4 separate regions of the Homo sapiens genome follow, and regions 1, 3 and 4 are each reported to be linked to region 2. Evidence: microRNA targets listed by miRTarBase, many of them from high-throughput screens and not tested one by one. Region 2 holds a microRNA gene; each other region holds the end of a gene's coding sequence.
The links. Region 2 holds the annotated microRNA hsa-miR-3926 (UGGCCAAAAAGCAGGCAGAGA, at 3,422-3,442, opposite strand). A microRNA usually pairs through its seed, bases 2 to 8, with sites in the 3' UTR of a target mRNA and lowers its output. Matches are read on the target gene's strand: a 7mer-m8 pairs with bases 2 to 8, a 7mer-A1 pairs with bases 2 to 7 and ends in A, and an 8mer does both.

Region 1: the mRNA of DNAJC10 is a reported target of hsa-miR-3926. Seed matches in the 3' UTR shown: 7mer-A1 at 5,235-5,241.
Region 3: miRTarBase lists URGCP as a target of hsa-miR-3926. The part of its 3' UTR that is shown has no 7-base or 8-base seed match.
Region 4: miRTarBase lists MRM3 as a target of hsa-miR-3926. The part of its 3' UTR that is shown has no 7-base or 8-base seed match.

The regions. Positions count from the first base shown.
Region 1 is chr2:182,776,509-182,783,508 of GRCh38, forward strand. DNAJC10 (DnaJ heat shock protein family (Hsp40) member C10) reads left to right here. Exons shown (of 24, transcript NM_018981.4): 24 at 613-7,000. The coding sequence ends at 624. Among named protein-coding and RNA genes, the nearest start is that of DNAJC10, 64 kb to the left of the region's middle.
Region 2 is chr8:12,723,853-12,731,802 of GRCh38, forward strand. It overlaps MIR3926-1 (microRNA 3926-1), which reads right to left and starts at 3,452; the gene lies at 3,380-3,452. LONRF1 (LON peptidase N-terminal domain and ring finger 1) reads right to left here. Exons shown (of 12, transcript NM_152271.5): 8 at 7,884-7,950; 9 at 5,322-5,480; 10 at 5,049-5,211; 11 at 1,875-2,027. It overlaps MIR3926-2 (microRNA 3926-2), which reads left to right and starts at 3,385; the gene lies at 3,385-3,447. RefSeq lists an enhancer at 2,950-2,999.
Region 3 is chr7:43,870,299-43,878,378 of GRCh38, reverse strand. URGCP (upregulator of cell proliferation) reads left to right here. Exons shown (of 6, transcript NM_001077663.3): 6 at 1-2,466. The coding sequence ends at 1,712. The region is part of intron 4 of URGCP-MRPS24 (URGCP-MRPS24 readthrough); the gene reads left to right. LOC124901620 (a long non-coding RNA gene) reads right to left here. Exons shown (of 2, transcript XR_007060296.1): 1 at 7,545-8,080; 2 at 6,737-7,431. Among named protein-coding and RNA genes, the nearest start is that of MRPS24, 4.8 kb to the right of the region's middle. RefSeq lists a silencer at 6,288-6,463.
Region 4 is chr17:790,574-798,653 of GRCh38, reverse strand. It overlaps MRM3 (mitochondrial rRNA methyltransferase 3), which reads right to left. Exons shown (of 4, transcript NM_018146.4): 4 at 6,145-7,120. The coding sequence ends at 6,585. Among named protein-coding and RNA genes, the nearest start is that of MRM3, 12 kb to the right of the region's middle. RefSeq lists an enhancer at 7,491-7,785.

The sequences.
Region 1 (7,000 bases), not on the chromosome of region 2:
CCTATGAGGCGAAAGGAGGACAAAATAGCTCAGCCTCTGGAAAGGGCTAGAGAAGACTGGCTTTATAGCACCATATTAGACAATAGGTTCTACTGTAATCCAGTTCAAACTGCAGACCCCAATAGACAAAGCCTTACAACCTACCTCAAGAATATTTTTTACGAATCTGAAAGGTAGGAAAGAGTTATGAGTCTGTATTTTCTTGGTTCCACTGAACAAACATGTTTTTCTAGTGTTTCGCTATATTAGTTTTCTCAAGATATTTTATTTTGAAAGGTGTAACTTTTATCTCATTAAATATTTGAAATTTAAAAATTGTCATAATCTAAAATATCATACCTGAAATTAAGTTAAAGAGAATACCCAATATGCTTGAAATTATGTAAACCTATATAGTTAGTAATATCTGCTGTGAGCAGGTAAGAACTAGGATATTCTTTTCTTTTTTATTGTTATATTTTGGCAAAGTATATTTCATGTCATGATCCATTAAATAAGAATATTGAGTATTTCTGAAAAAGTAAAATGTTGGTTTGTGGTATTTCACCTTATTTTTAACATTACCAACTCATACTTTCTCCTTTCTCTATCGCCTTTACATTATTATTATAGGATGAACTTTGATAATGTTGAAGATGAAGAAAAAGTTTAAAAGAAATTCTGACAGATGACATCAGAAGACACCTATTTAGAATGTTACATTTATGATGGGAATGAATGAACATTATCTTAGACTTGCAGTTGTACTGCCAGAATTATCTACAGCACTGGTGTAAAAGAAGGGTCTGCAAACTTTTTCTGTAAAGGGCCGGTTTATAAATATTTTAGACTTTGCAGGCTATAATATATGGTTCACACATGAGAACAAGAATAGAGTCATCATGTATTCTTTGTTATTTGCTTTTAACAACCTTTAAAAAATATTAAAACGATTCTTAGCTCAGAGCCATACAAAAGTAGGCTGGATTCAGTCCATGGACCATAGATTGCTGTCCCCCTCGACGGACTTATAATGTTTCAGGTGGCTGGCTTGAACATGAGTCTGCTGTGCTATCTACATAAATGTCTAAGTTGTATAAAGTCCACTTTCCCTTCACGTTTTTTGGCTGACCTGAAAAGAGGTAACTTAGTTTTTGGTCACTTGTTCTCCTAAAAATGCTATCCCTAACCATATATTTATATTTCGTTTTAAAAACACCCATGATGTGGCACAGTAAACAAACCCTGTTATGCTGTATTATTATGAGGAGATTCTTCATTGTTTTCTTTCCTTCTCAAAGGTTGAAAAAATGCTTTTAATTTTTCACAGCCGAGAAACAGTGCAGCAGTATATGTGCACACAGTAAGTACACAAATTTGAGCAACAGTAAGTGCACAAATTCTGTAGTTTGCCGTATCATCCAGGAAAACCTGAGGGAAAAAAATTATAGCAATTAACTGGGCATTGTAGAGTATCCTAAATATGTTATCAAGTATTTAGAGTTCTATATTTTAAAGATATATGTGTTCATGTATTTTCTGAAATTGCTTTCATAGAAATTTTCCCACTGATAGTTGATTTTTGAGGCATCTAATATTTACATATTTGCCTTCTGAACTTTGTTTTGACCTGTATCCTTTATTTACATTGGGTTTTTCTTTCGTAGTTTTGGTTTTTCACTCCTGTCCAGTCTATTTATTATTCAAATAGGAAAAATTACTTTACAGGTTGTTTTACTGTAGCTTATAATGATACTGTAGTTATTCCAGTTACTAGTTTACTGTCAGAGGGCTGCCTTTTTCAGATAAATATTGACATAATAACTGAAGTTATTTTTATAAGAAAATCAAGTATATAAATCTAGGAAAGGGATCTTCTAGTTTCTGTGTTGTTTAGACTCAAAGAATCACAAATTTGTCAGTAACATGTAGTTGTTTAGTTATAATTCAGAGTGTACAGAATGGTAAAAATTCCAATCAGTCAAAAGAGGTCAATGAATTAAAAGGCTTGCAACTTTTTCAAAAACCTGTTAGAATATGCTTTATTGTGTTTTGAGGAGTTTTCCTTTTTTTCTTTTCAATATCACTTTATCCTGCTCACCAGTATTTCCTCATAAGGGTTATTATAGCCATAATTAATGTTAAAATAGACTTTGTTCTTCATATTCTCCCATCTTTTTCGCTACTATATACTCTGTCTGGATTCTGCTGTATGCCTGTTGGCATATATGGAACAGTCACCACTTGTCACACTTAACACCAGCTTTTTGAATTATGATCAGTAATGGCAAGAGCCTTTCATTCTCGAATGTTTAAAGCCTAGGAGTTCTACAAAATTGGCTTCTTTCTACAAGAATCCCAAAATGGAATGCCTAAAGAAGTCTTACTTGGGTAAATACTTACTAAAATATACTGGTTATGTGCATATCACCACACTGGACACTGAGGAGTGTTCAAAAGGAATCTAAGACATGGTCCCCATCTTCCAACTGTCTGTAATTCACTGTTTTGTCATTGAGCTCATAAGGTACTTACATTACTACCTATAAATGTTTCCTGTACTTGTTAGTTGTTGAGAAACATTTTAGGCAGTAAATAAAATAGTAAATATTATGTGTCCTATAATTTGACCTAAGCTGTGTGCCTTTGGAATCAGCTCTAAGCCAGGGCCCCCTGGGAGTCATGTTAAGAAACACGTATCATAAAGTGACATACATCAAGGTTATCTTATATAGTCATAACAGTATTATTGGGTCTTTCAAAAACAGCTGGCAGATTGAGCTTTTAATGGCTATATTGATACAGTAGATAGAGCACCTCTAAGGAGTACCAGGTATAATGTGCCATTTCTCTCAGCAACACCATTTTTGTGTGCAGCTGACCCTCTAACATGGTATCAATTCTAGCTGACCAAAGCACATTCTATCAGGCAGCCAGGCTTGGAAATTAGGTCCATTTAAAGTATGTGGCTTACAGTCAGGTATGGTGGTGTGCGCCTATTGTCCCATCTACTTGAGAGGCTGAGGCAGGAGGGATTGCTTGGGCTCAGGATTTTGAATCCAGCCTGGGCAACATAGCAAGACCCCATCTCTAATAAATAAATTATGTTTTGGGCATTAATGATGTTTGTCTATTCTGATTTCTCAAATTTTATTTAGGTCTTTCATAGCTTTTTTATTTAAAGGTATATGATTAAGATAAAGGAAAAGTAAAATGAAATGTTTATGTAATTTTATATTCTCAAAATTTTCTTTAAATTTGCTCTGTTTTCTGACAGTGCTCAAAGTGGGAATTTTTTTAGAAGTACGGTTATCAAAAAAACACATTTCCTATGGGACACACATTTCAAAGATGTTTAGTACGATAAAATTTTTAGTAAAAGGGTAGCACTTTTAAGTCATTTGAATAGAATATTTGTGTAATATTTAGTCTAGTGTTAGTCCTTAAATCTGCCAACAAAACCAGATAGATGTCTTAAAGTAGGCACATTTATTCCATTGTGACTGTTAAGAAATAATAAAAGATTAAATTAACAAAATGCATTTTAAATTTTTATGATACCTATAGAAAATTGATAATGAAGATGAAAAGTAAATAACCTTTCTGATAATATTCTACTTTACACATATACTGAAAACTTACTTACATATACCCAAATTCTTCTAGTGAAGAAGTTTGTAATATGGTTTGAGTATTTGTCCCCTCCAAATCTCATGTTGAAATATGATCCCCAGTGTTGGATATGGGGCCTGGTGGGAGGTGTTTGGGTGATGGGGGCTGATCCCTCATAAATGGCTTTGTGCCTTCCCCAGTGGTAATGAGTTCCTGCTGTGTTTATTCCTGCAAGAGCTGGTTGTTAAAAGGAACTTGGCACCACCACCTCCTCTCTTTCTCGCTCCTTCTCTGTGTGACATGCCTTCTCCCCCCGTGCCTTCTGCCATGAGTAAAAGCTCCCTGAGACCTCACCAGAAGCTGAGCAGATGCTGGTGCCATGTTTTTACAGCCTGCAGAACTGCAAGTCAAATAAACGTTTTCTTTATAAGGTAACCAGTCCCAGGTATTCCTTCATTGCAATGCAAAACAGACTAATACAGTTTCTTTTCAGTAAGAATTACAAAATTTAGGCCAATGACCAAGCTGAGTATAAATTACTAATCATACACAAAAATGTGTTTCACTGGCTTGAGTCATTTTTCTGTTTAACACTGAATTTACACTTAGATTCTTGTACTGTCACTGAGTCCCCTTGTAAACAGCTAGGTATATTTTGTGAATGGAAACTAGCCAAAAATACAGCCAAAGTCTCAACGCCAAACTGGTCTACATCAGTATGGACTCCAGAAATGCATCTTTCAACCACTTGATTGCATTAAGTAGTCATTTGAGTGCATCACCTAGTGGCCTTTGGTCCTGAAAGTTAGCAATCATCCCCAAAAAGGTCTGTGTTAATAACTGATAGACAATCTTCATTAAGCAACTGCTGTTTTTTTTTTTTAATACTTCAAGTTCTGCAATACATGTGCAGAACATGCAGGTTTGTTACATAGGTATACATGTGCCATGGTGGTTTGCTGCACCCATCAACCTGTCATCTACATTAGCTATTTCTTCTAATGTTGTCCTTCCCCTTGCCCCCTACCCCGCCGACAGGCCCCATTGTTGATGTTCCCCTCCCTGTGTCCATATGTTCTCATTGTTCAACTCCCACTTACGAGTGACAACATGTGGTGTTTGGTTTTCTGTTCCTGTTAGTTTGCTGAGAATAATGGTTTCCGGCTTCATCCCTGTCCCTGCAAAGGACATGAACGCATCCTTTTTTATGGCTGCATAGTATTCCATGGTGTGTTTGTGCCCGTTTCTTTATCCAGTCTAACATTGATGGGCATTTTGGTTGGTTCCAAGTGTTTCCTATTGTGAATAGTGCTCCAATAAACATACGTGTGCATGTGTCTTTATAGTAAAATTATTTATAATCCTTTAGGTATATACCCAGTAACGGGATTGCTGGGTCAAATGGTATTTCTATTTCTAGATCCTTGAGGAATCGCCACACTGTCTTCCACAATGGTTGAACAAATTTACACTCCCACTAACAGTGTAAAAGCATTCCTATTTCTCCACATCCTCTCCAGCATCTGTTGTTTCCTCACTTTTTAATGATCGCCATTCTAACTGATGTGACATGGTATCTCATTGTGTTTTTGATTTGCATTTCTCTAATGACCACTGATGATGAGCTTTTTTTCATATCTTTGTTGGCCACCTAAATGTCTTCTTTTGAGAAGTGTCTGTTCATATCCTTTGCCCACTTTTAATGGGATTTTTTTCTTGTAAATTTAAGTTCCTTGTAGATTCTGGATATTAGCCCTTTGTCAGATGGATAGATTGCAAAAAGTTTCTCCCATTCTGTAGGTTGCCTGTTCACTCTGATCATAGTTTCTTTTGCCATGCAGAAGCTCTTTAATTAGATCCCATTTATCTGTTTTGGCTTTTATTGCCATTGCTTTTGGTGTTCTAGTCATGAAGTCTTTGCCCATGCCTATGTCCTGAATGGTGTTGCCTAGGTTTTCTTCTAGGTTTTTTATGGTTTCAGACCTTACATTTAAGTCTTTAATCTATCAACTTAATTTTTATATAAGGTGTAAGGAAGGGGTCCCAGTTTCAGTTTTCTACATGTGGCTAGCCTGTTTTCCCAACATCATTTATTAAATAGGGAATCCTTTCCCCATTGCTTGTTTTTGTCAGGTTTGTCAAAGATCAGATGGTTGTAGAAGTGTGGCGTTATTTCTGAGGGCTGTGTTCTGTTCCATTGGTCTATAGCTCTGTTTTGGTACCAGTACCATGCTGTTTTGGTTACTGAGCCTTGTAGTATAGTTCGTTCTTTTTGCTTAGGATTGCCTTGGCTATATGGGCTCTTTTTTTTTTGGTTCCATATGAAATTTAAAGTAGTTTTTTCCAATTCTGTGAAGAAAGTCAATGGTAGCTTGATGGGAATAGCATTGAATCTATAAATTACTTTGGGCAGTATGACTATTTCACAATATTAATTCTTCCTATCCATGAGCATGGAATGCTTTTTCCATTTGTTTCTGTCCTCTCTCATTTCCTTGAGCAGTGGTTTGTAGTTCTTGAAGAGGTCCTTCACGTCCCTTGTAAGTTGTATTCCTAGGTATTTAATTCTCTTTGTAGCAATTGTGAATGGGAGTTCACTCACGATTTGGCTCTCTGTTTGTCAATTATTGGTGTATAGGAATGCTTGTGATTTTTGCACATTAATTTTGTATCCTGAGACTTTGCTGAAGTTGCTTATCAGCTTAAGGAGTTTTTGGGCTGAGATGATGGGGTTTTCTAAATATACAATTATGTCATCTGCAAACAGAGATAATTTGACTTCCTCTCTTCCTGTTTGAATACGCTTTCTTTCTCTTGCCTGATTGTCCTGGCCAGAACTTCCAGTACATAGGAGTGGTGAGAGAGGGCATCCTTGTCTTGTGCCGGTTTTCAAAGGGAATGCTTGCAGCTTTTGCCCATTCAGTATGATATTGGCTGTGGTTTTGTCATAAATAGCTCTTATTATTTTGAGATATGTTCCATCATATCTAGTTTTTTGAGTGTTTTTAGCATGAAAGGGTGTTAATTTTATCGAAGGCCTTTTCTGCATCTATTGAGATAATCATGTTTTTGTCATAACTGCTATTTCAAATGTTTGGAGGAAGTAAAATGTCTTTAAAAGAATAAGTGTTGATTTTTGGAAAATATGAAATTGGAAACTTAGAAAACTTGAATTCTAAGTGGCTATTTATATTACCAAGCGGTAAAACATTAGCTAACTAAAACATGGTTCTGAAGCCAGTTAACTAGCAAAAAGTCCCACCTATGCATTGAAATATCTTTCTCAAGTCATTAGATAAAGTATATGGCGTTAAGGCAAAAAATACATATACACACACAAAAAAAATATTTCAGCAGCCACTGCCAACTGAAAGTAATAAAATGAAACAATTTGTTGGCTTTAATGTAT
Region 2 (7,950 bases):
AGCTTCCAATGTTGTTCAAAAAAGAAACATATCTCCAGTGAAAAGGTCCTGGTAATGCTGTGAGGGCTGACTATTGGCTATTGAAACAACTAGAAATTTCCATAAAAGGACTTGTAAGCCACCTTCACTGAACCTTAAATTGCTATTTATCGGACTTAAAATATAAAGCTTCAGAATGACAAAAGGAGCTACGACATCAGTGCTGATCTCAGTAGGCCCCTCTAGAATCAGATTCGGTTTCTATATTTGTGTATTGTCCGCTGTCAACTAAGCATTGCTACCTCTTCATCTGCATTCCACAGACATTACAAACTGTCTTCTAAAATCCCCTCTGCCATAGGGTTCCAGGTTAGAGTTGGCCGATGAAAGGCACTCTTGTTGGGTGTGGAAGCTGGAAGAGAAGCCATTATCCTCTGAAGATTGTTGCAAAGTGTGGGCAGGAACTTTCCAGAGAGCTCCTGGAAACCCCTTTCTCCACTGCTGTAGACTGAGACAGTGGTGCAGACTTGCTGGGATTCCTAAGAATTATAGCCACTTCCCCACTAGTTCTTCAGAAGCACGCTGTTGGCTGTTTCTGATGCAGGATCTCTGGTGGCAGATTCCCTGACTTCTGTAGGTGACATCCCTGACCTTCACTCCCACAGCTCTCCCAACTACTATACAAAGTCTACATCCTACGTCAAACCCTTCATTCTGGGAAAATGACGGGTGGTTGCTTTTGCTTTCCTGCCCAAATCCTAACTCACACAACACTGCTAACAGAAAGCAGTGATACAGGACAGGATAATAAAAGGCAAGGGTGGTGAAGGTGATGGAAAAGTTATGCTGAATTTTTCTATAAGCTGTTTTGTTATTTAAAATTTCTTATTCAATATTGTTCTTATCAAAGCCCATTTCTGTGATGTTTAATCAGATTCAAGTAATCAGTTAAAACAAATAGATGGCAACTGATAATATGCTAAACAGAATGAATACTAAATTTGGAGATGGCCTAATGTTGGTGTTTCAAGTTCAGGTGAAGGATTCAATTGGGATTCAGACAAATGTAGACCAACCCTTGAAAACGGGAATGAGGCAGTGTGCATTACAATGAGATCTATTATCTCTCCATCTTCACATATTTACTGACAGCCATTCCTTTGTAAAATCTATCACCTTCTGATCAAAAACATTTAGTTCAATTCAAAATGCTACGATGCCTAAAACGTAGTGCTTTAGTAAGTCTATGATCAGATTTTCCAGGAGCCAGACCCTTCTTTTATGCCTCCTGCAGTTTTGCTTGCACAGAAAGTGCCAGATACACATTCATTAGACTAAGCTTAAGTGTAAACCCTAAGTACCTGCAAGACTAAAAGAATAATAGTTTCATGAGAAGCGAGGTATTAAACATGAAGAGACAAAAATGAATTGAAGTGGTTGGGTCAAATGTTGGGAGATACAAAGAAAGGTGAGAAAAGATGTTTCAAATGTATAGAAAATGGTAAGTCTCTCTGCTGTCAAAGAATAACAGCAACAGGCGATGGGCTCAAAGGCATGGTTAGTTGTCCCACAGTCACAGTTTCTAGATAGTAACATCCCGTTTTTAATTCCTTACCCACTCCTAAAAATCCTCTTAAGGACTTGCTCCCTTTCTGGCACTCTCTCCTACAGGCATCTCAGCTGACACGTATTTCCAGCCTCTATCTGTACGGAATGTAGTGGAGACCACTGCTCTAGAGAACTCATGATTGCAAAGATGAGGTGGGGCTGGTGCGGGGGAGGGGACAGTCAAAGAAAAAGTAGTGCAGAAAGGACAATGAGAAAACAAATGTAGAAGTGTGCAAATTTGGGTTTATAAAAAAGTGACTTTTGGAAGAACAGAAAAGCCACCATACCTGAAGGTTTTCCTCCCTCTCGGGCATTGATCCGAAATGCTGAAGAATTTGGCTTCGAAATCTGTCTCTTAAATTCTGAAACCAGCTGCAGGCTTGAGAGTAAACCAAATCATGAAGCTCTCTGAGATTCTTAATCTCATCTTCATTCTCAACCTAGAAATACAATAGTCAGTAAGACTTCTGTGTCTAATCCCCCGTCCATATGCCATATGCCAACCGACACAAATGGAAAAAGGGATCAGAAGAACAGGGCAATACCTGTTTCAGTGCTGACGTCCCAGAGAGTATTATTCCTATGCTTTAATACACATTTCTGTCTCATATAGGGCTGACCAGACTAAAGAAAGACAACAAGGCCTGACCTATGCCTAACCTTGCTGACTTAGCAGTGCAATATTGCAGAACCCTACAACAGCCCTCAAGTGGGAAGAGTAAGATTGAGAGTGAGTTCTGGTTCAGAGGTCTAATTTGGAATTCCATTTGTCTTTATGGATCAATGGTTTTTGAAAGCAGTGGAACAAAAAAGTGGATGATAGTTGCTACAAAAAAAGAAAAGATAAGTAGTTAGGGTGTAGATGACATGACAGAAAGTAGTAACAGGAGGAGTCCAGGCACAGTTACATCTTTTACTAGGGAACTGGGTCAAAACACAAAAACAAACAAAAAGCTACAACAAATAAGTTAGCATATAAAGCCAGTATGTCAGAGAGTCAATTACACAATGATGAGCTTCTGCTGGCAAGGCCCAAGGCTATGGCTACCTCTGGAACCCCTCAGTGTATTCTTTAGACTACTGGGTCACCAAACTGCAAATGTAAAATTAATTGCATCAGGCTTCCAGCCTGAGATAGAAGAGTAGTCTCAGAGAACACAGGTGGGAAGATCTAAGTTTAACTCATCCATCTTATACTGATTTCTTTAATGCACACTTACATCCCACTTGCTACTTGCCAGGTCGTGCTCTGTCTCATATGCACAAACTCATCTGAAAAAATACCAGGCCTGACTCAGCCTTTCATACTTCAAGGATGACTCATTTAAAAACAACAAAGGGACTCTGAAAACATTTCGAAATATAAAAATAAGACTACAGCACACCAGAGACAAAAAAGCAAACTTTTTACTTTTGAAAGATTTGAAATGAAAACTAAAGTTTAAAGAGCATCTGTTTTTTGCATAACAATGTGAATGTACTTAATGCCACTGTGTGCACTCAAAGATGGTTAAAATGGTAAATTCTATGTATATTTTACCACAATAAAAATAAACTTTTAAAAAAGGTAGAGGAGCCACACAATTGAAGAATTTTGGTCCTGAAATGACTATACATGATTCAGGCCCCTGCTAACATACATTGATAGGAGCAAGAAACAAACTTATGCCTTGTTAAATCTTTTTTTTTTTTTTTTTTAAAGCATCTGCTCTGCACCCTCACAAAATTCAAGAAAACAAATGACAGGCTCTGGTAAACAAGGAATGATAACAATTATAAGCGTCAGTGATGAAAAACGGAGCTGGCCAAAAAGCAGGCAGAGACGCTTTTAAAGTCTCTGCCTGCTTTTTGGCCAGCTCCATTTTAAAAGCAAGCTTTTAAAGTCAAGGAACTTTACTGTGATAATTTTAACAGAACTTAAAATTTCATTAGAAGTCACAGAAAACAGAATTATTATAAGAAGAGGAAAATTTGCCATATAAAACAAATTTGAGAAGGTTTTCCAGAATGGACAAGAAAATCATTATATAGATGAAGACATGATGAGAAAAGATTACTAGACATTCCGAGGACCAAAGAGGACTCGTTTATAAATATCATATCTGTAATACTTTTAGAATGTGATTCTATTGCCTACATGTTTGTAAGTATTAATACATATAGTCATGTAATTTAGCCATATACTCAAGTGATTTTGTCATCAAATCCAATAAGTGAAGACATAAATTTACACAAAACTGAAATATGGTTATTAACTTTACAAAGAAGAACCTTTAGCAAGTGATTCCATTAACCAAGTATGCCTAAGGCACAGATTCTATCAATCAACTCAAAATTTCAACTCACACAATACTTTCGGCCAACTGCACAAGACAAAGTACCCCCATAGCATTTTTATAATAAGATAGGACTGCCAACGTCAGACTAATCAGGTTTATCAACAGAGAGCCAAATGGCATAGTGATAAAGCTCAAAGTCTGAGTCAGACAGTTTGCTTTAATCATTTTTGTTACATTATCTATAGGCTCTCAGGCAAATTAATTAACACCTCTGAATTGTACTTTCCTCATCTACTATTTCATAGAGTTGTGAAAATTCTATGAGTTAATGTTTGTGAAAATACCTAATGCCAATATCCAATAAATGCTGACGAAATGAAGGGCCTAAACAGATCAATGAATAAGAGAAGGGATAAGATCTATGTTTTTATAATGCCTTTCCAAAAGAAATTGCCTTCAATTTGGTATTTGTAGCATCATAAGTCACTTTTCCGGTTCCTAAACTAACTGCAGTAGGTAAACTGGGTATTGCAAACATCAAAAGGGCCACATTAACCCTATTCTAGAAAGACATCACAAAAACCCTACCCTGTTAAGATATCACCAACATGTACACTGGCAGTGCTTTCTATGTCTGCCCCAGGGTCTTCACACAGCATTCAACTCTATTTTATCATTAAGGTTATCTTAGGCACAAGAACAATCTTAATATATAAAACAATTCTTATAAGATTTGATGTGTTTACATTTACATCAAATTTCAATCTACTAATTCCATCGGCTTCAACTACTAATACATTCAATAAAACAGGGCAGAAATGTAAACCTTTCAAAACTTAGATGGGTTGGAAGTTCAACTTATTCAACCACTATTGTTAAGTACCTATCACGTGTATACACACATGCACATGTGTACATATACACATACATTCTAGGCACTGGGCTGGTTGTTAAGCCTGCAGAAATAAAGAGAATCTATGTTCTAGTCTTCCAAGTTCTCTTAGAATGTGCAACAGTTTCAGAGCAAGATACGAAAAAGGTAACTTGGAGCACATTCTCATCACAGTGGTAAGGCTGTCTGATAAGAACTGGTTCATGCACCTAGAAAATAGCCTGCATGCCTGTACCAATCCCTGGAACAGGATATACGAAAGTATGCTGGCAAAGCACATTTTAAAATACCTTAACATCTTCCAGATATTCAATGTCGGCAGTGCAATATCCATCTTTCATTCCTCTTTTTAAAACCCTAAACCGCTTTCCTCCAACTGTATCAACCACAGACCTTCCGTCCGGTAAGAAATGCACGTTTCTAATTTGTAACATACAACCATAATCTGCAAAACTAAAAGAAAACCTTGATTAGTAACAAAGTTGAAACATAAACATGCAAGTTCTCATCCATATTGAGAGGTCTAACATAAATACAAATATTTAGGTTCACAAAAAGCATACCTATTTTGTGTATCACTGACACACATGCCAAACTGTTTGGTTCCAGTCTGTATACTTCTTCGAATCATCAATCTGTATCTTGGCTCAAATACATGGAGAGGGCAAGGCACAGTGGGGTAGGCCATAGTGCAAACAAATATTGGAACATTCTTGGTCAAGCTAAGGGAAAAACAGTTTAATTATTAGAATTCATACAAGAAAAATATTACCGAACACATACAAAAAATGAGTGAGGTTTATAACAGTAATGAACTAATGTAAAGCAAAAAAAGAATTAGTTCTAAATAAGGTGGTTTTTATTCTTGGCAAGAACAAGAATCAGCACCCCGTTCACTAAGCTCACACTGATGAAATATTAATACTGAAAATCTGCTGTGATCCTCTTATTTATAAGAGTAAACTGAATTTTAAGACACCAGATTATCTTACAGAGCTAAGTATGTTTATGAATCAAGAGAATTTATTATAAGTAATATTTTATATTAAAATCTGTTTTAAATATTTATAACATGACAATAAATACCTTTTATCCCAAACACTCATAGTTACTCTTAGATAACAAGAAAAAGTGAACTCCCACAACAAAGAGCAAATACTTAAAAATTCTCAGCCATTATTTTCAAACGCAAGGATAAGAAAACATATTTTGATGAGATAACATTTTTTCCAAGTAATTAAAATGATATAACATTTTTCATTGCCAGATTGGTAGAAAGAAAGAGAAGGATAAAGGCAATGCCCAGTTCTGTCTGAGGTATGGGAAAAATGGCAGCATGGGGGCACTCTGAAACAGCACAGGCACGCTAAAGAACATGGCTACAGACAGCAGAAACCTTACGTTGTTGGCAGGAAATGTTCATGTTCTTGGAACCAACCAGCTTATTTTCAGACATAAGCAGGCAAGTGCTATATGAATGTTCACTGTAGCAATGTGGATAGTAACCAAATTGTAGAATCATAAAGAGGAGACTAGTAAGATCAATTATGGTACATCCATAAAACGGAATACTATGTTTCCATTAAAAGATGATGTGTATGAACTGAATTAGAAGAAATGCTTATATTAATGAGAGGAGCAGGTTTTAGATACTGATCATGAATAACATGATCCCATCTTTGTTTAAAGCCTATTTATACATACTACATTCAAGTTTGGAAATATGTATGCCAAAATGCCAATAGTTGATTCCCTTTGAGTTGCAGATTATGGCTTTTTTTAAAAGCTCATTTGTATTTTTGAGTTTTTTTCAAAATGACCATCAATTACTTATATAAACATAAGGTGAAACATGTTTAAAATATGTGTTTTAAGAAACAGCCCCATTAGTAAGCAGCTGGACACCCTGTCGCTTCTCTTCTCTCCAATGCGCAGCTCTCTGTGTGTCTCCCTCCTCTGTCCTTTGAGTCTACCACTCTTCCGTGGGCTGGCTGGTTGTGTCACCATGTTTAAATTTTCAAAAGCAGAAATGCAGTTTTCTTAAATCTAGATGCTTCAGCACTGATCAGAAAGGTTCATAATTGTCATATCATTTTATAAACCACACAATAAAATATCAATTCTGTGAGAAGACAAATCAATATCTATTTCTATAAAGAGTGGAAATCTTTCTTCTGTGGAAGGCACCTGGCTCACTGAAGACATCTGATGGGCACATGTTGATAAAGGAGTCTACAAGCACAGCTTTTCTTAGAAAGTGACATACAAAATGTTCAATTTATATTTTGAAAATCAATGGAAACAAAAAGTTGTTAAATAAAACAGCATATACAAATTATAATTTTGTTTTTTAGTGTGTTCAATTAAAAGAGAGTAAAAGAAATAAAGAAATTAAAAACCCGTTAATAAAATTTAAAGAGACCCAAGTGACTGCACAAGAGGGAAAGACATTTAGGGAAAAGAAAGGGAGAAAAACGGGAAAGAAAAACAGAAAAGGGACAACAAGCAATGCCTGGCCCTGCCTACCCAGCTCCATCAGCTGCTGTGTTCTTTGCAGAGTGGCCTGCCTTACCGAATCCCAAAGTTGCCTCCGAGATTTTCACCCTCCCGACACCAACTCAGTTGTGCTCCCAGTCAGTATCTTCATTAATTGAGGATTTGGCCCTGAACACCCCTCTTCCAATTTCAATCTCAGATCTCAAAGTTTGGAAAGCCCCCTTCCGGGCCTCCATGTGACAGAAAATCCCCTGCTAATCTAGGCTACTGACCCTCAACCTTCCTCTTGCCCTACCACGACACATGAGAGCCGCCATCACCACCAATGTCACTGTCACCAGCGCCCCCTCTCTATTTCCCATTCCACTGCCTGATGGCACTGTAGGAAATTCCTCCCCCGCCCAAAATACTGCTTCAGCCCACAGAGCTGAGTCAATAACTCCCTATAAAACATCCGGATGTTACCAAGTGAACTTTTATAAGATTCTGTCTGTTGAGGACCACGGAAACAGACCAATACTTCTTGACTAGACTGAGATGAACTAAAGACAGGATCCAGCTTGCGGTGAGGTTTTTCCTTACTATTAAAGGGTAGTAGTTCATAATTTTTTTTATGAGAAGAAACTTACTGTGAGAGTTCAGCAGTTTCTTCATCATATATTTTTTTTCTCTCAGACAGTTCATCAGGCAGATACT
Region 3 (8,080 bases), not on the chromosome of region 2:
CTGACAATATCAGTAAGAAGGAATACAAATTGCTGTACTCCATGAAGGAGTCAACCACAAAATACTACTTCATCCTGAGTCCCTACCGTGGGAAGCGCAACACAAACCTGAGATTTCTGAATAAGTTAATTCCTGTGCTGAAAATAGACCACTCACATGTCCTGGTAAAGGTCAGCAGCACTGACAGCGACAGCTTCGTGAAGAGGATCCGGGCCATCGTTGGGAATGTGCTGCGGGCACCCTGCAGGCGGGTATCTGTGGAGGACATGGCGCACGCAGCCCGCAAACTGGGCCTAAAGGTCGACGAGGACTGTGAGGAGTGTCAGAAAGCGAAAGACCGGATGGAGAGGATTACCAGGAAAATCAAAGACTCGGATGCCTACAGAAGGGACGAGCTGAGGCTGCAGGGGGACCCCTGGAGAAAGGCAGCCCAAGTGGAGAAGGAGTTCTGCCAGCTCCAGTGGGCCGTGGACCCCCCTGAGAAGCACAGGGCTGAGCTGAGGCGGCGGCTGCTAGAACTTCGAATGCAGCAGAACGGCCATGATCCCTCCTCGGGGGTGCAGGAGTTCATCTCGGGGATCAGCAGCCCCTCCTTGAGTGAGAAGCAGTACTTCCTGAGGTGGATGGAGTGGGGCCTGGCACGGGTGGCCCAGCCGCGACTGAGACAGCCTCCGGAGACGCTTCTCACCCTGAGACCAAAGCATGGGGGCACCACAGACGTGGGGGAGCCGCTCTGGCCTGAGCCCCTAGGGGTGGAACACTTCTTGCGGGAGATGGGACAGTTTTATGAGGCTGAGAGCTGTCTTGTGGAGGCAGGGAGGCTGCCGGCAGGCCAGAGGCGTTTTGCCCACTTCCCAGGCTTGGCCTCGGAGCTGCTGCTGACAGGGCTGCCTCTGGAGCTAATCGATGGGAGCACGCTGAGCATGCCCGTCCGCTGGGTCACAGGGCTCCTGAAGGAGCTGCACGTCCGACTGGAGAGACGGTCAAGGCTGGTGGTTCTGTCAACCGTCGGGGTGCCAGGCACGGGCAAGTCCACACTCCTCAACACCATGTTTGGGCTGCGGTTTGCCACAGGGAAGAGCTGCGGTCCTCGAGGGGCCTTCATGCAGCTCATCACAGTGGCTGAGGGCTTCAGCCAGGACCTGGGCTGTGACCACATCCTGGTGATAGACTCCGGGGGCTTGATAGGTGGGGCCTTGACGTCAGCTGGGGACAGATTTGAGCTGGAGGCTTCCTTGGCCACTCTGCTCATGGGACTGAGCAATGTCACCGTGATCAGTCTAGCTGAAACCAAGGACATTCCAGCAGCTATTCTGCATGCATTTCTGAGGTTAGAAAAAACGGGGCACATGCCCAACTACCAGTTTGTATACCAGAACCTTCATGATGTATCTGTTCCCGGCCCTAGGCCCAGAGACAAGAGACAGCTCCTGGATCCACCTGGTGACCTGAGCAGGGCTGCAGCCCAGATGGAGAAACAGGGCGACGGCTTCCGGGCACTGGCAGGCCTGGCCTTCTGCGACCCTGAGAAGCAGCACATCTGGCACATCCCAGGCCTGTGGCACGGAGCACCTCCCATGGCCGCAGTGAGCTTGGCCTACAGTGAAGCCATATTTGAATTGAAGAGATGCCTACTCGAAAACATCAGGAACGGCTTGTCGAACCAAAACAAAAACATCCAGCAGCTCATTGAGCTGGTGAGACGGCTGTGAGTGTGCAGAGAAACCCAGTTCAGGTGTAGGAGGCTGCTGTGGGCAGCCCTGTCTGATGGGGCACCCGTGTGGGGCTGTGCTCTGGTGCCTGAGAATGGCTGGTGCCCAATCGACATGAGAAGACGAGGAAAAGACAGGGTTTGGAGTCTCCTCAACAGTGTTAAAAGAGGAAGTGACCTCACAGACCAGCTCAGAGATGTTACCAAGAATATCACAGCCCCCAGGGTAGGGAGACAAGCAGCAGTTTGTTCTGTCTCAGCTCCTGTCAAGGATCCTGCGGGGTGGGCCCTCTGTATAGCTGCTCTCTGTCACTGGCCCCTGGAGTGGGAGCAGCGTCCTTAGTCACTGCAGGCCCAGGCGGGCAGGTGGTCCCAGGACAGAGGTGGGGAAGTTGTCCTGAGGAAGCAGAAGTAGGCCTTGCTCCCGCCCAACCCAAGGGCCTCCAGTGGACCAGCATTCAAGATGTGAGTGCCCGTGGTGTGCAAGGCACTCCCATGGCACCGTATTTATTGACTGATCTGTGAAGGCTTCCCTGACCCCTGCCCAGGAAGAGTTCACTGGTCGCTCTGTTGTGCCCCACAGCACTTTGTTATACCTCTGCCACACACTTCACGCAGCGCGTTGTAACTCATGTGTTTACATGTCTGTCCCCCCAGACTGTGAGCTCCTTGAGGGCAGGGACTGTACATTCTCCAGCTCTGTGTCCCCAGGGCCTGGCACATTGTAGACGCTTAATAAATGTCTGTTAAATGAATGAGTGCACAAGTGATGGTAATGGGCAGGTTCTGCCTCTCTGTGCCTTAATTCTCCTGTTTCTCAAAGAGGATAGCAGCATCTGTCTGAGGAGGGTGTACGGTACAGGCAGTATCTGGAATGGTAGATAGCACAGAGATGCACCACTTAAAAAAGCCATCCTGTTCCCTCTCTTTAAGGCAGGAGCCATTCTTCAGGCTGTTACTGGGGATTAAAACTAAATACCTTCACAGTAACTCTGAGGTCTTTCCACTGTCACCCCATTTCACAGTTGAGGAAAAGGAAGCCTAGAGCAGGTAATCCCCTGCCCCAGAGCTTACACCTGGATGGGCAGAGCTGGAGCGGATGAAGGGTGGTGCTGTCACGCCCAGCCCTGCATCTCTTCCTCTCATCCTCTCCAGACTCCCATGGCTTCTGGGCTCACCCCTGGGCAGCCATGTCAGTGCCAGCGCCTCCTCTTACATCCTCCCCGACCTCATCCACAGCCCACTTGCCACCATTCGAACCAGAGGCTTGGCCAAGGACTTGGTAGTTCTGCCCTGTCAGTTTTCCCGCTGGAGTCCTTGCCTGTGCTGGCCCTTCCCAGAGGCCAGTGTCACCTCACTGGGCCTCAGAACCCCACCTGAGCCCTTTCACCAGCTCTAGGAAGCTCTGCTTGATCCTCTGGGCCTTGCTTAGACCTTGGAGCCTCTTTCTCTTTGTGTTTCTTGACTTCAGAGAAACCAGGCCCTTCCCCAAGAGCTCCTACCATGTTTCTTGTCCTCCTTTCACTAGACACAGCAAGGGAGCCTTTAGCTCTCGGGAGCTCACCAGCCTTCTAGACTGGAATCCTTTCTTGAACAAAAGGCTTCCTGGTCCCTCTTCTGGAGATGCCTGGCAGGCTGCCTGCTGTGGATTTCTGGATTCCCCAGATGCTCCACCTGCTGCTCCCGGGACATCCAAACTGTTGCCTCCTGCGTTCCAGGAGCCTGGTTCTCTGCAAACCTGGTCTCTTAGTAATAAGTTTAGGAAAACCTTTCCCTTTTTCATTTTCCTGCTCTGTTGCCTGGGCTGGAATGCAGTGGCGCGATCTCACTGCAACCTCCACCTCCTGGGTTCCAGTGATTCTCAGCCTCCCAAGTAGCTGGGACTACAGGCGCCCACCATCACAAAAATACAAATAATTTTTGTATTTTTAGTACAGACAGGGTTTCACCACGTTGGCCAGGCTGGTCTCACACTTCTGGCCTCAAGTGATCCACCTGCCTCAGCCTCCCAAAGTGCTGGGATTACAGGAGTGAGCCACCGTACCCAGCCTCCTCCCACCCTTTTTGAAGGGTTGATGTTTCAAGTCTGTGAACTGTGGATGGGCCTTGCCTTTAGCCCTCCAGTCAGTGCTGCTCTTAGGATTCCAATGAACACAACACCCAGGACTTGCCTTTCATATCTGGAGCTCAAAATGCTCACCTTCAGGTCTGAGAAGCCCCAGAATTTGCCATGGGGCTACTGGACGGTCATGTCCTTGGAGCCAAGCTTAGTAGAGAGAGAGCCACCCAGAAAGGTGGACAGGGCGGCAGGCTGCTCACCAGAGCATGGCCGTGTGCTCACAAGGGGTCCTGTTTGATGAAAGTGTCAAACCAAGCAAGTACCATCTTGGAGGAAATGGGCCTGAAGAGTGCTTGGGACAAGGAACAAGCGTGTCTTCGCCTCTCTTGTGAGATGAGGTGTAGCTTGCTTCAGCACATTGGATGTCCGGCCTGGTTTTGAACCTCAGCCTTACTTCCTACTAATTATATGACCCTTTAGCAAAGTTACTTGGCTTCTCCAAGCCTTAGTTCCCCCTACTAGCGCCTGTGTAGGAATGGAAGGTGCTTATACAGTGCCTGCCCTGTGGTGGAAAAGCCAGTCTGTGCATGAGGTAAGTGAGGCACCCATCTCTGTGTCTACACCATTCTGCACACCCATGAGGTTTGTGGAGAGGAAACTGCCTTCTGCATCAGCCTCAAACATTTTAACATGTCAGATCAGGATTCATCTTTTAATCAATCAATGGTACCTTAAGATAATTTGCAGCCAGTTTTCCTTCTTAATGGTATGTAAAACAGCATCTTCTCATCGATACTATCTTAATTTACTGAAACAGCACCTAGCAGAACTGGTGGTGGTCTGCAGTTTATACAATATAAACCTGATCTGGTAACTACCCCAACTCCTCAGGTGTGGTGTATTAGCCCAGTAAAAGGGAAAATCCTCTTTCTGAGTCACTAATAAAATAATTTGGCCATAAACCTATCCTGATTTCTTCTAAGACTCCAACAAAATTTCACCAGAGTGCAGCTTTATGAGCACTGATGAGTCAGGGCTGTACAAGAGCCAAGATGACCTTGGTCCTGGTCTCCTGTCATTTCGTCAACCACACCCTCGCCCCGCCACATACACACTTTGGAGGCCATGGTTTCTTCCATGCTGCTGTCTGCCTGGGGGCCCCTTCTGCCTGTCTCTGGCCCTGGTTGACTGGCGGGCACATCTCTCAGAACAGCCTCTGGTGCCAGTCGCACCTCCATTTGTGCCCACCCAAGGGTTCAGAGGCCTTTCTGTGCCCTTCTTGGTCCTTAGCACATTTTCATTGTCTCCTCATCTGAGCCCATTATATCTAGATCTAGCAGTTTCTGGGAGCCAGGGAGTGGCAGTCTCAGGGGCTGGAGCTCATGAGCCCATCCCTCGGTCTTCTCTTTCTTGAGTCCGCACCCCCTCTATCCTAAGCACCAGTTTGGCTTCTTCAGGTTCTGACTTTTAGCCCAGGGTTCTGGTGTGGCACTGGGCATTTCTAATTGCCCATAGCTCTGATAACAGGGGAGTGGATTCCTTGGGACCGCAAAGCTGATGTCAGTAATTATAGCTGGGGACCTCACCCACCAAACCCAGCCCTTGTGCCTCACCAGAAGGAGAACAGAGGTGGGGGGATGGAGCAGGAGCTCACAGGGAAAACGGCTGAGCTGTCTTGGCAATCTGGTTTGACACGCCTCTCTGCTTTACTCATAGGGTTTCAGTTGTTTGACCTATTTCTCAGAATAGAGCTGAGAGCCTCTGGGATTTTTCCTAGTGAACGAGTTATTAGGAAAAAAAGAATCACAAGGAATAATGTAAAAACCATAGGTTTACAAAGTGTAAAGTGTCAGCAGTTCTGAGTTAGGATAAGTCAGCTGTAAAGAGAACCACCATGAGTGGAGTGATATCGGCTCACCCTGCAGCCAACAGGAAGGGAGATGTCACCCCACCGCCCCCAGGCTGGATTCTGAAACTCTTCAGGCTCTGGAAGTACAAGGGGGCTGACAGCTCCCTTTTACACAGTGTCTCTCCATGGCCCAGCCAGTGCTGTATCCCCTGAGCACTCTGGGTGAGCCCATGGTGGCTGTGCTGCACCCAACTGGACAGATCATCTCAAAGAAGTCCTGACCTCCCAGCAGACCCCTCCTCCCTTCTTCTGCCCTTGTGACCAAGAGTGGTGGGCGTGGACTATGGCTATGTTCCTTAGAGAGCTGCCATAATCTTCCAGGGGCATCCAACAGCACTCTCCCCGAAAGGGGGCTCTGCAAATACACATTTTGGGAGTCTCCCAAATAAACTGAGTGAGTTCAGGACACTGGTTCTCAGCCCCGACTGCAAATTGAAATCATCTAAGGGGCATTTTAAAAGTGTGAGTGCCTGCCCTCTCCCCACAGAGGTGGTGTGGAACCCAGGGGGCTCTGTCATGCAATTGCAAATCACTGCTTTGAGAGCATAGGAGCAACTTCTGGTTCTTGGTTATTATGTACAGAACAAAGGCTCATGTCAGAGAAAAAGCAGTTTTACATCCCTGTCTCTGCATTAGGCTCCAGGAAGGGTGCAGATGGGTCTTTCACATGGGGTCATATGCTCCTGGCCTTTCCATGTCCAGGCAGTCCTTGAGGGCCACTTGGGAGCTGTCTGCAGCAAGCCACAGAAACCCAGGCCATTCCCTGATCCTAACATGGTCTGAACCCTCACCCCCAGGAAGTGATACTGAAAGAGCACATGCTTTGGAGCAAAAAGGCCTGCTACCATTTACTACTTCTGTAACCTCAGGTGAGTCTGTGAGCCTCCATCTTCTGCTCTGTGAAGCCTGGAAATACTGCCTCCTTTATGGAATTAATAGGAGAAGGAAAGTGCATCAAAACAACAACAAATGGAAGTTACAGAAAAATAAAACATCCCCAGTCAGATTTTTCTGCTGATTATTTAAAACAATATAACATTCATACTGATGTATAAAAGTCATTTTAAGTAATTTTAATCATGTAAAGACCGACACGTCCCCTTTCCCCCAATCACAGTATAAACAAAGCTAATAAAGGATAGATAACAAGATATTTGAACCCCAGAAATGTCTGCCACTGAAATGGCCATTGTGATGCTTGGAAAGATCTAGATCGGTTTGGAATTCCAGAGAGAGATCTCAGGCATAAGGGAGAATGGCTTGAATAGAGGAAAGCATAAATTTGATCATTTGATTGCCTACTGCTTTATGGGCTAAACTTGATTCCCAACCACAGCCTTCGTGGTGTGGCCCCTGCCCACCTTGGGCCCCAATAGGTGTTGTGCCATTGCCACCTCTGCCTCTGATCAGCCCAAGGATCTTGTTTCCCTTTCTCCTTCCCCTTTCCTCTGATTAGGGTGGTGTTGCTATGAGTTCTCACAGAACCCTCAATAGCTGGCTCATCTCCCTAACGGGATATGTGGCTATCAGGGACTCGTTAAAAACAACAACAAAACCCACAACTGCTCTCTCCCTCTGCCAGGCACATCATACTGTACTTCTCACAACCACCATTATTGTCCCCAGTTTACAGATGAGAGAAACCGAGGCTCAGAAGGTTCAGTCACTTGTCCAAATTACACAGCCAGGAAGCATTGGGTCCACGATTTGGACTCAGGCAATTCAGATGCCACATCCCATGTTCCTCACCACCTTGGAGCAAATTAATGAAACTTAACAATTATAAAATTATTGAACATTATGAAAACTTTAAAAAATAATTGTCAGTTGAAAAGGATTTCTTAGGAAATGTTGAAAGTTCTTACATTTGCAAAGTATGCATTGGAGGGCACCTCATCCCTGTTCTGTCCCTTTATTCAATATGCATAACAGTTGGGGGCCGCAGTTCCTAAAAAGTAAGAATAAAACATTTCTGGTGAAGTGGACATGGAAGACCTTGTCCTTTTATTACGGGTTTTTTGAGAACCCACCTTCATGTAATCAGAGGAATCTTGGTCATGGGAAATGGGCTGGACTGAAGTCAAGAGACTTGTGTCTTGGTCCCTCTTTCCCTCTTCTCAGTGTGGTCATGGGCAACTCATTTCCACCGTTCTTCCATTTCCCCTTCCCATGGATCATAATCCAGTCCTCCCCCTGACAGGAAACCGCAGCAGTATGCAAGTACTGTACCATTAAGGGGAATGATGTAGACCCAGAACGGCCAAAACATTGGCAATTTCACATCACTCAACCAAACACAACCCATCATTGATTAAATATTCTCTTGATCCTAATAGCTCTATAAGGTAGTACTATTATTAAGGCCCATTTTATAGATAATAGAACTGAGTCTTAACTGTAC
Region 4 (8,080 bases), not on the chromosome of region 2:
AGCTTCCTTAAGACCCGTGGGGAAGGTTTACTCCAAAGGTTCAGGTTTATACAGTGACTGCTTTGCGGGAAACCGTTAGGGAAGAATCACTTCTGAGTGTCAGGGATCGATAGTGAGAGGTCGTAAAGGCCACAGATGCAGGCGAAGTGGGTGGCATGATAATCCCCGCCAAGCAGCTCCACCTTCAGATTCTTGTTGCTAATTGGAAGCAGGTTCAGCACCAGCTGTGGCATATTCAAGGGCTTCCTCCGGCAGCCAGGAAAACCAGGCCCTGCAGGTGGAGGCTGGGGGCGGCTGTGAAAACGCCACTCTGTGGTTCCCAGATTTGTGTTTACCACAGTGACTTCCAGATCCCATCCATTCATCCTCACAACAGCGATGAGGGTTTTTTTTTTTTTTTTTTTTTGAGACAGAGTCTCGCTCTGTCGCCCCGGCTAGAGTGCAGTGGCACGATCCCAGCTCACAGGTTCAAGCCATTCTCCTGCCTCAGTCTCCCAAGTAGCTGAGATTACAAGCGACACCACCGCGCCTGACTAATTTTTGTATTTTTAGTAGAGACGGGGTTTCGCCATGTTGGCCAGGCTGGTCTCGAACTCCTGACCTCAGGTGATCTGCCTGCCTTGGCCTCCCACAGTGCTGGGATTCCAGGCGTGCGCCGGCACAGCCAGCCTGTTGTTGTTGTTTTTTTTAACCTGTCTTCCCAACATTAAAAGCCTGTTGAAGAAAAAGGGTATGTTTTCCACATTGAATTCCTAATTGGGAAAAAAAATACTAAAAAAAGAGAAAAGGGTATGTTTGGGACCAGCACATACAGCAGATGAAAACCAGCTTCTTTTCCAGAGCGAGGTGACTTCCTGCTCTTGCTTTTCGCCCCTTGGTACGTCCTTGAAATCAATGGCCATCACTTACCAGAACGCAGGGAGCGAGTGCTGTGTTGGCATCGGCCAAGCTTCAAATAGTAATTTTCAGCCAGACTTTGTTTTTTCCTGTTGCCTAATTAAAGACACTGAAAAGCTGTTCTCCCCTCCTGCTGCCTTGTTCTAGGACAGCAAACTGAATTCAGGAACAATACAGACGGAGCCGGATGTGGCCCAGGAGCAGATGCGCGGGACCTAACACGGTGTTGCCCCGTGCAGCTTAGGGAGGAAATGCAATGTATGAGAGGACACACGTCTGGGAACCCTGCACACTGGGAAGCGTAGTACCAGCAGGGCCCTGAGCGAGGGCACACGCTGTTGACGGTGCCGTTGCCCTGGGCAGGCCCATGTGTTGTGCGCGCTGTGGGTGGCTGTGCACACAGGCCCGCAGGTTCAGGAGTAGCACTGAGCAGGGGGCTGTGAGCTCAAAGGATCTTTCCAGTTTGCCCCGAAGCAGCTGAATGAGAGAAGTGGGCACTTGGCTACACCCCTCACTGCTGCCGCCAGCAGACGAGGGCACACGCCCTGCTTCCTCCAGGCTGCGGCTGCGCAAGGGAAAATTCTTTGGGAACAAATAGCTGTTGACCAGTAGCTTCATTAGTGCTGGGAATATAACATGAGGGCGTTCTAGGTACACCTCGTATGTGAGCGCATGAAGACAGGTAAGTATGCCTACTGCCATTTTTCAAGGCGTGTGTCTCACCCCCTTGGTGCTTTGGGACACTTCCCAAGCCCGAGAATGTGTCAGGAGGTTTGGGTGGAACTGTTGGGTTTCTGTTAAACGATACACAACTCGTGAAAGACTCTGTCCCCAGGTCTGTAGGCCAGTGTGCAATCCAGAGGCAGAGACGGCCTCCAGTCCGGATTCCGGGTGCTTATGCCTCACTCACATGAGGAAGTCACCCACAGGTGCTAGAATGACGACACAGTAGGAGACGTGATCTCAGGGCCAAAAAATCCATCTCTCGAATGTCAGAGGACATGGAGGTCCTACTTGGCAGGCTTGCAGTGAGTACGCCCCGCCCTCGGCATCTCAGAGGAGCAGGGAAGGGAGGCTGAGGCCGGAGCTTGCTGCAGCCGTCGGCTCCTCCCTCCCCAGCCTTGTTCCCTGTTCCCTTCCTGCATTTCTTTTTTTTTTTTTTAAAGACAAGAGTTTCACTTTTGTCACCCAGGCTGGAGTGCAGTGGCACGATCTGACTCACTGCAACCTCCGCCTCCCACATTCAAGCAAGTCTCCTGTCTCAGCCTCCCAAGTAGCTGGGACTACAGGCACACGCCACCACGCCGGGCTAATGTTTGTATTTTTAGTAGAGACAGGGTGTCGCCATGTTTGCCAGGCTGATCTCAAACTCCTGACCTCGTGATCCGCCCGCCTTGGCCTCCCAAAGTGCTGGGATTACAGGCGTGAGCCACCGCACGCGGCCCCCTTCGTGCCTTTTGAGGAAGCAGCAGCCTTGGTCATGGCCCATAAGAACTCAGACTTCAACTGAAAAAAGTGGCTCTTCCCTACACAACAGTCCAGGAAGCTGGATATTGGGAGTGTGGTGAGACGAGAACTGACCCATCCATAAGCTATTCTGGATTCTCTGTCACTCTCAGCCGTGGAGCATCAAGCAGGCTTCCTGAAGCTTCGGGAGGACCTGGCTTCAGCTGCTGTCTCAGCTGCTCGAATGTAACATGGTTCCGTAGTTGAGACTTCAGTCATCCTGAGCAATAAACCAGCTCATCCACTAACTTGGCTCCTAGCTTATTACATGTGTGCACTCCCTGCACTGATGAAAACAGGAAACATGGCGGGCGCAGGGGCTCACGCCTGGCATCCCAGCACTTTCGAGGCTGAAGCAGGAGGATAGCTTGAGGCCGGGAGTTCAAGACTAGCCTAGGCAACGTGGCAAAACCCCATCTAAAAAAAAAAAAAGAAAACAGAGGAAACACAATCATGGAATTTTTAAGGTGGCAACATGTTTTCTTAAAAACAGGTGAGCCTGTCAGCTCTGCTCCTGAGGGAGAGGTAGCTTGGTCAAGAGGGCAGCCCCAGGCCCTGCAGTACAGCTGGTGATTTTCAGCCCAGAGCCCTGGAACCTTGGATGGGGAGTGTGTGTGAGGGCTGTGCGTGGTAGAATGGCAAAAGTGGGGCTAAGTGTGGCCCAGCGTGGCTGGTGCGGACATCTGGGGTTGCTGTCAACCCCGGGGCAAGCAGCGGAAGGTCCCAGGTGAACGGCAGGTCCCCAGAGGTCTGTTTCTCCTCTGGACCTTAATGACCAGGCTCCCAGCCAGGAGCCAGCGGCTGGGGCGAGGGGAGAGTGATTTCAACGCTCTCTGCCCCGAAGCAGGAACCGAAGGGCCAGCCGGTGGGCACCCAGCGTGAGCTCCAGGCACATCTGGACACCTATGCTTTGCCCAGAGTTGCTTTTCTCAGAGGCTGCAGTCACAGGGAAAAGTTGTGACGGTCTTTCCTGCTATTTCCCGTTCGTCCTCTTTCGCCTCCGTTTTTGTTCCCATGTCTTCCTGTACTCCGGGTTCTTTCTTCTGAGGTGGTCTGGGACAATCTGGATGGGTCTCCGGCTTTAACACCCCGGAGCACAGACAGCTTGCAAAATGCTCTCTGGTGGAGGGAGACTTCACTCCATCCTCTTTTCCTCCCTTTTCAACGATTTAAATCCAGGAAAAAATCGCAGCCCCGCCCTTCAGCACTGGGGTGGTTTTGGAGGTGTCGCCTGCCACCTCCTGGCAGACGCCACTGTGACAGCTACGCCACCACACAAAGGCGCGGGAGCGTGGCCAACATCCTGACAATGTTTGTCTCTCGGCCAAGCAGTGTTTTCCTTGTCAAATGTGGCTCGTTTTTTATTCCTGTTTACTGGGGAAATGGTGACAGAACAAATGTCAGACTCAAAACTGAGAATTCAAGGTAGTGATTTTCCAGAATCACTCAGCAAATAACAACCATCTGTTCCCCTGTATTCACTGAAGAAAGGACAATTTGCCTCCCTCCTGCACCCTCCCTCGTCCCTACTAAATTATACCCATGAATATATAAAGTGAACTGAAGGCACCGTGGCATATAAGCCACGGACTCTAAAGCAAAGGGATGTAAATTTCTTTTCCCTCTCACACCCAGGATAAAATGGGCTTAGAATTACTTGTCAGTGTTGGCCGGGCACTGTGGCTCACGCCTGTAATCCCAGCACTTTGGGAGGCCGAGGCGGGTGGATCACGAGGTCAGGAGATCAAGACCATCCTGGCTAACATGGTGAAACCCCGTCTCTACTAAAAATACAAAAAATTAGCCGGGCGCAGTGGCTCACGCCTGTAATCCCAGCACTTTGGGAGGCCAAGGCGGCGGATCACAAGGTCAGGAGATCGAGACCGTCCTGGCTAACACGGTGAAATCCTTTCTTCACTAAAAAAACACACAAAATTAGCCAGGCTTGGTGGCAGGTGCTACTCGGGAGGCTGAGGCAGGAGAATGGCGGGAACCCGGGAGGCAGAGCTTGCAGTGAGCCGAGATCGCGCCACTGCACTCCAGCCTGGGCGACAGAGTGAGATTCCGTCTCAAAAAAAAAAAAAAAAATTACTTTCCAGTGTTTACATTGCTTTTTCTAAACAAGGACAAGGTAATACATGGTTTATTCTTTCACTGTTATTTTGTAACGAGTCAGTGGGAGTATAACCCGGGGAACAAATCCCACGAGATTGGTTTTAGGCTGGAAAGATGTGAGCTTCCTTTTCGTGACTCCTGCTGCTTGAGCACTGTCCTGAGGTGTCTGGGGAGACTGGAGTGGGATGGATTTGCATTCTCCAGGCCGCCTTTCCGCCTGTCCTCTCTGCACCAGCCTTTGGGAGCAGTGTTGGGGGGACACTTGCATTGCCCATTCATGTGGAGCTCTGGGCAGGCCCAGACCACAGTGGGGCTCCAGAGCAGATGTTCAAATATTCAGATGTCAGCCTGGGAGGACACTGTCCCTGCAAACACCCCTCCCCCAGGGGAGAGCAATCCCAACCTGCCCCTTGGCACGTGAATCATGCTTGGTCATTTGGTTTTACTAGGAAGAGGGAGTTTGACTAGGAAGTTGGGGGAGTAGAAGAGAAAGAAGGTTTCTCCTGGGCACACCAGCAACACACTTGACCTCCCTGGAGTGAGCAGTGTCCAAACCATTACGGGAGCCGCTGGGCAGAGGGGTGTGGGGAAACGCTTCCTGTGTTGTCTTCAACTCCAACTCTGTGTGGCTGCAAAAGCAGTGCTTTTTTTTTTTTTTTTGAGACGGAGTCTCGCTCTGTCGCCCAGGCTGGCGTGCAGTGGCGCGATCTCGGCTCACTGCAAGCTCCGCCTCCCGGGTTCACGCCATTCTCCTGCCTCAGCCTCCCGAGTAGCACCTGCCACCACGCCTGGCTAATTTTGTGTATTTTTTTAGTGAAGACAGGATTTCACCGTGTTAGCCAGGACGGTCTCGATCTCCTGACCTTGTGATCCGCCGCCTTGGCCTCCCAAAGTGCTGGGATTACAGGCGTGAGCCACTGCGCCCGGCCTCCCGAGGTGCTGGGATTACAGGCGTGAGCCACTGCGCCCGGCCTCCCGAGGTGCTGGGATTACAGGCGTGAGCCACCGCACCTGGCCAGCAGTGCTTAAGAGTCCCATATTCCACCCACCCACCCCATCCCCACAGTTCCTTATAGATACATTGATGACCATCAGCACTTGCCCTGACACCCTGGCTACATCCTGGTTTGGCCGCTAGTAGGTAAAGATCCAGCTTGCCCTGGGCCCTGGAGGGGCTGAGAGAACAGAAGGGTCCTGCCGCTGTATTGTGGGCGTTCATTCTCAGAACCTTGGCCTCTAAACATTGGGGGATGAGACGTAAGTAGGACTAACACAGGGAACCAGGAAACAGTGACACTTTCCTGACACATGCAGGGTGAGGCTGCCGATTTTGAAATTCAGTTTTCCGCATAGACTTCCGTCTCTGCAAAGTCCTCAAAAAGGTATCTGCAGAGGTGCCAAGAAGGTCTGACATGGCCTGTTGAATTAAGCCGTTTCTATGGATACATAAACAGTGGCTCAGTGAAGCCCTGAACAATCTCAAAGACAGACCATCTGAGCCCAGAGCAGAGCTGCTGGATGCCATGAGCGTAGCCCTCAGCTTCCTGGTGTTCCCTTAGCCACGTCCTCGTTACCAGGCCAAACGTGACAGGTACTGTGACACACCAACGACACAAAACAACTTACTAACGTAATCTGCTGCTCATAGTTTATTTTCCACCAACCAGTGATCAGCTGTGAGTGATGTGGCTGTGACCTATAGCTGGTGCTTGGCGATTACAAACACCCACCAGCTGGTGGAGCAGGCGCCTCCCTGCCAGGATGATGCTTCAGGAACTTTCTGGGCACAAAGTGCTTCTTGGTGGACAATTTTTAAAAACACACAGAGCCACGTGGGTCACCTATTGTCACCAAGAGAAAAAAGAACCTCAAAATCAGTGACGCGACAGGAAGAATTCGGACCTGTTCTTTCTGAGGAAGTTCTTATTTTTCCTGTAACTGTATGACGGCATCACACCTTCCTCCTGAACGTGGGGGCCATAGTCACTGACTCCGCCAGCCTCCCACCAGTGTGCTGGTGTAGGAGGAGCTGCAGACGTCCTCAAGCAGAAGTCACTTCTGCGTCCTCAGTGGTAACTCCTGTCCCTGCTCAAGTCCTCCGCCCTCCCCCGCAGCTGTCTTTTCCCTTCGAAAAGCAGGATGCTTGCCGCCATGGCCGAGTTGAGGCTGTCCACACCAGGCACAACGGGGATCAGCAGCCTCTTGCCACCAGTGCTCTCGGCCAGCTGCAGGGACTCCAGGCTCACGCCGTAGGTCTCCCCGCCAATCACCACAGCTGCCGGCGCCTCTGTCCAGTCCGAGTCGTAACTCTGAACCTCAACATGAGGCAGCCAATCTTGACTGGCTCCGGTTTCTACATCTTCCTCTTCCTCATACTTGTGAAACTTCATCACTCGTTGATCACACACCCAGCCATGGTCACTAGCTTTATTAGACATCTCAGCCTGGGCATAAAGGCCACAGTTGTCAGCCACATAGACCCGAGTGTCAGGGGGCAGGTAATTGGGCACGGTTTCCCATTCCAGATTATTGATAATGGGCATCCGGAAATGTGCGCCCATACCCGCCCGGAGCACTTTGGGCTCCCAGGCATCCACACAGCCTGGAAAATAAAAAGGAAACAATCAAGATGTTACAAATCTTCCCAGACCAGGGGACTGTGGAGTAAGTCTGATCAATTTTGGATCAGGAGATAAACCAGTTCTTCTATGATAGCTTTCTTGAGGGATGGGACCTTCTGCCTCTCTCTGACAGCATCCAGCACAGCGACTATAGGAGTCACTCCTGCTAGTGCTGAAGATATTTTATGCATCCCTTCAACATCTCCCATTCACACGTGCCAGACACTGCGCAGAAGATGCAAAGATAATGAAAGTCCCCAACCCCAAGGAACGCACAGTGTAGTGGGGTGGTATTAAACAGATGGCTACAGTATCAGTAACTGATGTAAAAGAAGCACCCACACAGTCATAGAAAACCCACGGACAAAGCAGGGCGATGAGGAAAACCATCTAAAAGACCACCACACTGAGATAAAGGCCCAGGCAGAGGACAGAGCTAGGAGAGGAAGCGGGAGAGTGGCGCAGCCTAAGGACTGCAAGCATGGTGAGCCGGCCAATCAGCGGTGGCGCTGTGGCGGCACAGGAGGTGAGCCAGCCAATCAGCCGGTGGGGGTGTGGTGGCACAGTTGAGGTGGCCAATCAGCGGGTGGGGGGGGGGTGTGGTGGCACAGGAGGTGAGCTGGCCAATCAGCGGGTGGGGGTGTGGTGGCACAGGTGAGCCTGCCAATCACTGGTGGTGCTGTGGCGGCACAGGGGGTGAGCCGGCCAATCAGCGGTGGCGCTGTGGCGGCACAGGAGGTGAGCCAGCCAATCAGCCGGTGGGGGTGTGGTGGCACAGTTGAGGTGGCCAATCAGCGGGTGGGGGGGTGTGGTGGCACAGGAGGTGAGCTGGCCAATCAGCGGGTGGGGGTGTGGTGGCACAGGTGAGCCTGCCAATCACTGGTGGTGCTGTGGCGGCACAGGGGGTGAGCCGGCCAATCAGCGGTGGCGCTGTGGCGGCA